Regions from separate parts of the Homo sapiens genome. Here region 2 is linked to region 1. The links come from fine-mapping of genetic effects on gene expression. Tissue or cell type: lymphoblastoid cells. Region 1 holds a variant in brackets; the other region holds the start of a gene. All regions are shown on one strand. Distances are between the middles of the regions.

Region 1 (4,254 bases):
TGGCCCCTCCTACCATCAAAAAGTGCAATGACTAGTGGACCCATCTGGATTTTGGAGGCAACATATTCTGCATTTGGGCGTGTTACTCTAGCCCACTTACTGAGTGACCCAAAGAGCTGCTAGTTTTGAATGAGGCCCAGAATGGGATAAAGCTCTGCAATAGATCCAGGCTTCCGTGCAAGTTGCTCTTCCACTGGGGCCATATGATCCAGCAGATTCCAACATTGCCTGAAGTGTCTATCAGTGGCAGACATAGATGCCATTTAGACTCTTCAGCAGGATCCTACAAATGAATTGCAGCACCGGCTTTTAGGATTTTACAATAAGGTGTTGCCATCACCTACAGATGGCTACCCTCCTTCTGAGAGACAGCTCTTGGGCTGGGCCTTGGTAGAAAATGAGCACTTAATCATGGGCTACCAAGTTACCATATGACCCAAACTGCCCATCATGAATTGGGTATTATATGATCAACCAAGCCACAAAGCTGGGCATGCACAGCAGCACTCCATCATCAAATGGAAGTGGTATATACACGATCAGGCGAAAGCAGATCCTGAAGGCACAAGTAAGTTAAATGTCATCATGGCTCAAATGCCCACAGTCCCCACTCCTGCTACACTGTCTTCTCTAGTCCCAGCCTGCACCTATGGCCTCATGGGCAATTCCCTACAATCAGCTGACACAGGAAGAGAAGACTTGGGCCTAGTTTGCAGATGATTCTGCACTACATGCAGGCACCACCTGAAAGTGGACAGTTGCAGTATTATAGCCGTTCCCTGTGACATCCTCAAAGGACAGTGGTGAAGGGAAATCCTCCCAGTGGGCAGAACTTCAGCAGTCCACCTGGTTGTGCACTTTGCTTGAAAGAAGAAATGGCCAGACATGCAATTATATACCCAATTCATGGGCTGTAGCCAATGGCATGGCTGGATGTCCACAGACATGATTGGAAAATCGGTCACAAAGAAATCTGGGGGAGAAGTATGTTGACAGACCATTCTGAATGGGCTAAAAACATGAAGATATTAGTTTCCTATGTGAATGCTTACCAAAGAGTAACCTTCAGCAGAGGAGGATTTCAAGTGGATAGAATGACCTATTCTATGGATGCCAGTCAGCCTCTTTTCCCAGCCACTTGTCATCGCCCAGTGGCTCATGAACAAAGTGGCTATGGTGGCAGGGATGGAGGTTAGGCATGGGCTCAGCAACACAGACTTCAACTCGCCAAGGCTGACCTGGCTACAGCCACTGCTGAGTGCCCAATCTGCCAGCAGCAAAGACCAACACTGAGCCCCCTTTATGGCACCATTCCCCAGGGTCATCAGCCAGCTAACTGGTGGCAGGTTGATTACACTGGACCTCTTCCATCAAGGAAGGCACAGTGTTTTATCCTTACTGGAATGGACATTGACTCTGGAGATGAATTCGCCTTTCCTGCATGCAATGCCTCTGCCAAAATCACCAACCATGGACTTCCAGAATGCCCTATTCACCATCATAGTGAATAAGAAGCATTGCTTCTGACCAAGCAACTCACTTCACAGACCACAAAATGAGGAAAGGGGCCCGAACTCACGGAATTCAATAGTCTTACCATGTTCCCTACCATCATAAAGCACCATCCTGAAGTAGCTGATTTGATTGTACAATGGAACAA[C/T]CTTCTGAAGACTCAGTTACATGCTACGTAGCTGACAACACCTTGCAGGGCTTGGAGCAAGGTTAGCCAGAAGACTGTATATGCTCTGAATCAGCATCTGCTATATGGTAGTGCTTCTCTGACAGCCAAGATTCACAGGTATAGGAATCAGGAGTGGAAATGGGAGTGGGTGGCACCACTCACCATTACGCCTAGTGGGTCACTGGCAAAATGTTTGCTTCCTATTCCCACAACTTTATGCTCTGCTGGCCTTAGTTCCAGAGGGAAGAATGCTTCCAGCAGGAGACACAACAATAATTCCATTGAAATGCAAGTTAAGGACATCAGGCCACTTTGGGCTCCTCATGCCTCTGAGTCAGCAGGACAAGAAAGGAGTTACAGTGTTGGCTGGAGTGACCCATCCAGATTACCAAGAAGAAACTGGACTACTATTCCACAGTGGAGGTAAGGAAAAGTATGTCTGGAATACAAGAGATCGTTTAGAGCTTCTCTTAGTATTACCATGCCCAGCAACTAAGGCCAATGAAAAATGACAACAACCCAATCCAGGCAGAACTGCCAATGATCCAGACCCTTCAGAAATGAAGGTTTAAGCCACCCGACCAGATAAAGAATCATAACCAGCTGAAGGCAAAGGGAATACAGAATGAGTAGTAGGAAAGCTAGTTATGATACCATCTGTGACCATGTGACCAGTTACAGAAAGGAAGATTGTAATTACCATGAGTATTTCCTCCCTATTTTGTTATGAATACGTTTGTGTGTATATAAACATATATTAAGTAAATATCCTTGTTTTCCTTCCTCTCTTATTCCCTTATCACACAAGATGTTAATGACTTTATGTCAGTATTTCAGTAATGATAATTTTCTATACTATTTAAGTTACAGAGTCTCAGGAGAGGAGTAAACATCACTCAAGGACTTCACCTCCACTTCCAGAGAAGGGATAAGTGCACTTTCAGTTGTACACAGGATCATTGTACCTTGATAGGTGGAATTATGACCTTGTCATTGTCTTTATTTGGAGGTTAGGTATGGTTTAAGGGGATGTGTATGGATGTTAAGTTGACAAGGTAGACTTGTGTAATTTGACTGGGTTAAAGGGTACCCAGATAGCTGGTAGAACATTATTTGTGGGTGTGTCTGTGAGAGTGTTTCTAGAAGAGATTAGCATTTAATCTGTAGATTCAGGAAAGATCCTCTCTCACCAATGTGCGTGGGCATCATCCAATCGGTTTAGGGCCCAGGTAGAACAAAAAGGCAGAGGAAGGGTGAATTCACTCTCCTAGAGCTGAAACATCTATCCTCTCCTTCCATTGCACACTGGAGATCCCCTAGTTCTTAGGTCTTTGGCTCTGGTACTCACACCAGCAGTAAGTCATCCCCATCCCCCTCTGCCAGCACCACCATTGGCTATTGGCTCTCCTGGTCCTCAGGCCTTTAGACCCAGCTAAATTACACCATCACCTTCCCTAGTTCTCCAGCTTGCAGATGGCAGATGGCGGGACTCCTTGGCCTTCCTACAATAAATCCCCTTGACAGATTTCCTATTGGTCCTGTTTCCTTGAGAAAACAAAGACTAATAAAGTAAGTATTGTTGGGGCAATAATTGTGGCTATTGAGGAAACCATGTCATAAGCCAGTTCATTCTTCAAAACTAGGCAAAACTTATTTCTAATACAGAATATTTAACTTCTACCTCCCTTAAATGTTGGCAAAAATAAGACCAAACAACAATCCACTCAGCAAACATAGAGCATGTTTGCTCTAGAGTTAATCCATGTGCCACTTATAGGTTAAGTATAGGTAACAAAGTAAAACATATCACCCTTGCCTTTTAGGAGCTTAAAGTTTAATTAAGTTCCATTACACCTGAGAATAGAGCCGCCAATTCTCTGACTTCTGTGTATCTCTTCCTTTATCATTCTATTTCCTGCCAGAAGCTTCTGGCAAAACAAAATCTTGGGATGAGAGACCTTGAAATTTGGTCAAATGCTTAAAATCAAGAACTGAAACCAAAACAACACTTTTCACTGTAGTTCAGTGACAGGCAATGGATGCCATCCTGGAAAAAAAAAATCTGTATTTTTCGAAACCAATAGCTACATCCATAGCAGGAACCACTCTTGAATTCAAACATAATCTATAGCTGGCACCCAGACAAGGTAAATGTGAGCCTTTGGAGCAAGATGTTGGACCACAGCTAAGAATGAATAAAGGCATGTCCAGAAGTGGCACCAAAGTCCTCAAGGCAAAGGAGCAGACACCAAAGGGATATTAGACAAGCAGGATCCTACAGTAAGAAGACAAGAAATAAGGAAAGGCTGAAGGACTCAAAACACAGGTTGGCCAAGCTCATGTTCAAATCAAGTATTGCATGTTTATATGATGTTTATGAACATATGAAAGACACTGGCACTAAGTCTTGACTATACCTAAGATCCAATTCTAGAAAGCAGAAATTCCAGTTTTCTAGACTTTACTCTTGGAGGAAAGAGTACCGTATAATAGTCTACATACAAATTTACCATGGACTAAGAAAAAAGCACCACCAATTATAAGCAGATATGAAACAGAATAAATAATATAAA
Region 2 (4,254 bases), 33 kb after region 1:
TAATTTTCAGAGTTTGCCTCAGGAAAAAGGCGCCAAACAATTAGTTTCAGGGAGAGAGGTGGCGTGATGAGGTGTGGCACGGGGAAGGGAAAGGGGTTTAGAACTGTGTCCAAGCTATTTAGGAGAGAAAGGGGAGAGTCCCGGGGCTGTGAAAGGGGCGAGGAGGAGAGAGCAGCTGGGCCAGGGCGAGCGTTTGACCACACCCACTAGCCACTCCCTCCCAGCTGCCCGCAGAGCCACATCGAATCGAAACAGCAGTGGCAGCGGCTAAGATTCCGAAGGCAGGAGTCGCCATGGCAACGGGATTCATCTTGCAGGCAACTCCGCTTCGATTCACTGGGTCCTGCTCGAATCTCAAGAAACTACCAGCAAAACGGTCACGGTGGCATTTGCTCTTGATGCTCTCCAGAAAGTGGAGATGAAGGAGAGGGGAATGGAGTTCAGGCATCACTAAATATGTTATGGGGCGAGAGGTAGCTCCGCAAAGCCAGGCCGTGAACAACTTGAGACCTTAGCAGGGTTTGATGAATGAGTAAACGAACAAATGAAGGTACTAGGAAAGGCAAAGAACATCCAGAGGACTGAGAGCTCTGGGCCTCCTGCACGTCTCCACTCAGAGGGCAAGCCGATCACAAGCAGTTGGCTTTCAGAACCAGCTGGGTAAACCCGATTATCCAGCCCTCCTGCCCCACAGCGAGCCTAATCATTAGATTATCCGACACCTCCACCCCCGCGCTACCACCTCCTGGCCCAGGGCTTCAGGGCAGGCGCTTCGCCCCAGCCCAGGTGCTCTACACCAAGGGACCGTGGAGACTGAGATGCGCCCTCCCGAGAGGGACGGGCGGCAAAAGCCCTCTGCGGTGCCTCACAACCGGGTCCGCAGGCGGCGCAGCCTCCCCGGCCGCCAACACCCTGCTCTCCCTCCGCAACGCCCGATTTCCCTTCTCTCTGTTTTGAAACATTTAGGTCCAACTTAGTCTGAATTACAGGCGCTCCGTCCCTTTCGAATGGGGCTGGAAGTGAGGGTGCCAGGGGCACTGGGGGCTCTGCTCGGACGCGAACGGGTACACGAGTCCCTCCTTCCCTGTCGCCACCGCCGTGTCCACCAAGCCTGCCTCGGGGTTCTCCCTCTCGGAGCCGCCGGGCCGGGAGCTCGCGGACGCCGCTGCAGTACCCGCGGCCCCAGCCCCGGGGAGCCTTCAGCAAGGCGGCGAGTGTTACCCCGCCAGCTCCTCGGCCAGCCGGGCGCCTTAGAAAGAAAGGGAGGGACCCCAGTCCTTGGGGGCGTCTTCCTCCCTGCTGCCTCGGTTTGCGTTGCGCTGCAGCCATTTTCCCACCCCCAGCTAGGCAGCCGAGAGCTGTCTCGGTCCCGTTCCCACCCAGACCCAACCTGAAGGACGGGTTTAATATTTACCTACTGGCCCGGGAGCTCCGGGGAGGCAGCAGGAGGGCGCGCCGCGAACCCAGCGCCCAGCCCACGGAAGCACGCCCACCCCCGCACCACTGAGCAGTGCCACTTAATGAATGAGTGCGGCGGGCAAGGAGGAGCGTCCCCCTTACCTGAGCAGCCCCTGCATGCTGGAAAGGCGGCTCTGCACTCTGGGTACAATGGGATCCGGTTAAACAGTTTCCTTCACAGCCGCTCGTAGGTTACTAACTCGCAGGTGACATCACCCTCTCCTCGCCTGATAGGATACAAAGTGGCTCCCACTGCGCATGGACGCTCCGGTCGGGCGCGCAGACTCCTGGGAGTAGTGGTCCCAATCTATTAGCGGAGCCGGGACAGCTTTGCTGTCGGGACTCGCGGAACTACATCTCCCGACACACTCCTCCGCCCTTCTGCCCCGCCTCTTATTCCCGCCCCCTTCAGGACCCGCCCCCTCCCAGCCTTACAGCCTTGCAGTGTTAGCGGTGGTCGTTCCGAAGCCGAGCTGCGGACCGCACGGGAGAGTGGGAGGGCTGCCCTGCGGTCGTGTGTGTTGACTTGACCTCTACTTTGCCCGGCGCGGGCTCTGAAGGATCGGAGAGGTCCGGGGCTCGCGTGGTCCGGCCAGGCTCGCTCTAACTGGTCTTTCTTGGTCCCTGCTGGGAAGGGACGATTAAGACTTTTCTGCCTTCCCCAGGCGTAGCAGCTAATTCAGAGGGCTTACTGTTTTCTGGGTTAAATACGGTCCTCGAATTCTCCCCGCTCAACACTTCCAGAGGATGGGGCGACGCCGGTCCCAAGGCGGAGGAATCTCCTTGTACCCCCTCAATTCACCTTTCTCTTTTCTGCTTCCCGTTTAACGGAGACAAGGTGACCAGGCAGAACGCGGGGAACCACTTAGTCGGCTGAGCTGACAGAATAACGGAGGTTGTCACTACCAGAAGTGCGGTGTGATAGACTAGACAGTCGCCGCAACCCTCCGTCAGGGCGCCTGCTGCTGCTGCAAAGATAATACTATCGTGCAGCCATGCTTTTGTTCATCCCTGCAGCAGACTTCCCGCGCTGGTGGCTCTCCACTCCCAGGAAGAAAACGTCCTTGTCTAAAGTTTTAATAATTGTGTATCTATGTATACACATGTTTTTAAATCCACAACACTCTCACCTCATTTTCCATACCTTTTCAAATATTTTTATAAAGACATTAAACCAAACAACATCGTGCCGTTCAAGAATTGCCCTGCTCTTAACACACCTAAATATTTATTTAAAGGTAAGCAAAAGGTGTGTAGCAGAATTCTGACCCTTTAGGCAGGTTGTATTGTTAATACATAATTTTTTCCGTGGCATTTTTCATTATTCAGTGAATACCAAGTGTCTTTTAATATGAAAAGAATCAATGCATTTAGTTACTCGAGTTGTAAATGTAAATTTTAATGGCATTTGATGTGTCTCAATTCCATATAATGATCAGCTCACACACCCGTTCCACTAGCAAAATCTCTAGAAGACTGTGCATCTTGTGAAAAAAAGGTTCACAATTAAGATTTCAGACAACTCCCTACTGAAGTGTTGGTGGAACTCTTATCATTTATTTTCTCCTTTCATTCTGCAACACTAAGTTGGGTTCAAGTGAAAAAATATTTATGAAATTAGTTGAGGATCTCAGGGGAGAGGAAATGCTTTGTTTTGCTCAGAGAGATGTTTAGCGATGAATTCTGATGTTCTTTTAACAAGCCTGTTCTTTATAGACAAGACCCACTTTTCTCCCCCGAAAGAAGATAGCTTTGAATGTTGCTCTTCTGTCCTCAGCTACTTCTTCCATTTCAAATATTATCTAAAATGAACTCTGACAATATAAATTTTCCCCTGGCCATCAGATCAAGGATATAATCACTGATATTCTAACTAATGGGTAGACTTAATGTAACGCAGTTCATGGTGGAAAAATATTCAGAGAGAAACTTGACCTGGGATGATTCTAAAGGCTCTTCTAATTTTATAACTGTGTAAAGCTTTTAGACTGAAACATAATCAGTGAGCCTGAAATTTATTGAGTCAATAAATTGAATGTGGAGCCTTTCTGTTAAGACAGGGCTTATCCTTGTAGATAAAAGTATGTTACTGAGGCACACTCTGAGGAGTAATTTTAATGGAGAAATCACCTTACAACAAGTTCTCTTGGCTCTTCAGTAATGAAGGAGAAGATGCAGTCTGTCTGAAAACAAAAATTCCATTCTCTTTAACAATATTATAGGGATGTGCCATGTGACATAGTCATCTCCATATAAAGGACAGCATACACAATAGACTGTAAGCACATAAATGTGGAGAAATGCACATGTGAACTGCTCTTCCTATCTAATAGCTATAAATATAGATAATAGATGTAGAAAGAGGGCATTGTGTTTGGAAAAATTATCTGCAAGTGGTGATGGATTTGAACTGATCCCTGCACAGTTTCATTGGTAACCAAGGGAAACAAAGATGGCTCTTTAACATGAGAAATACAGTCTGTAGAACTAGCAGCAGAGGAGGCTTAACCACTTCTTTGGAGACAGAAGGAAACTCACACACACACTCTCTCTCACTCACTTTCATACACAATCATTGTGTATGTTTGCATTTAATTTTTTCTAGGTGGCCAAGTAGTCTCATAAATCATCAAAAACACCCACTCTGTCTAGCTAATTGATATTCTCAGTCAAAATGGGTTTCTTTACTTTCTATCTTTTCATTTTACATAACTGCTGCTGTTCTGAAGACCTTATGAAAAGCCCTGCCTCATCCCATAATCGTGGCCTATTAATTAGGAACCTGTGAGACCACTA

Which allele goes with the higher level. Alleles are on the strand shown, and positions count from the first base shown. SD is a standard deviation of normalised expression in the study named.
For the expression in lymphoblastoid cells of the gene that starts at base 1,662 in region 2, C is the high allele of the variant in region 1 and T is the other (large effect, 0.80 SD a copy in GENCORD).

Evidence for each region. PIP is the estimated chance that this variant, and not a neighbour inherited with it, causes the effect.
Region 2: it holds the start of DAAM1, and the variant in region 1 is fine-mapped to the expression of DAAM1 in lymphoblastoid cells (GENCORD, PIP 0.95).

Annotation. Positions count from the first base shown.
Region 1 is chr14:59,219,509-59,223,762 of GRCh38, reverse strand. The region is part of intron 1 of DAAM1 (dishevelled associated activator of morphogenesis 1); the gene reads right to left. Among named protein-coding and RNA genes, the nearest start is that of DAAM1, 33 kb to the right of the region's middle. RefSeq lists a silencer at 3,078-3,372. The variant C/T (reference allele first, on the strand shown) is at 1,661.
Region 2 is chr14:59,186,075-59,190,328 of GRCh38, reverse strand. DAAM1 (dishevelled associated activator of morphogenesis 1) reads right to left here and starts at 1,662. Exons shown (of 25, transcript NM_001270520.2): 1 at 1,561-1,662. RefSeq lists enhancers at 30-79, 510-669, 380-1,139, 1,920-2,159 and silencers at 1,030-1,249, 1,310-1,449.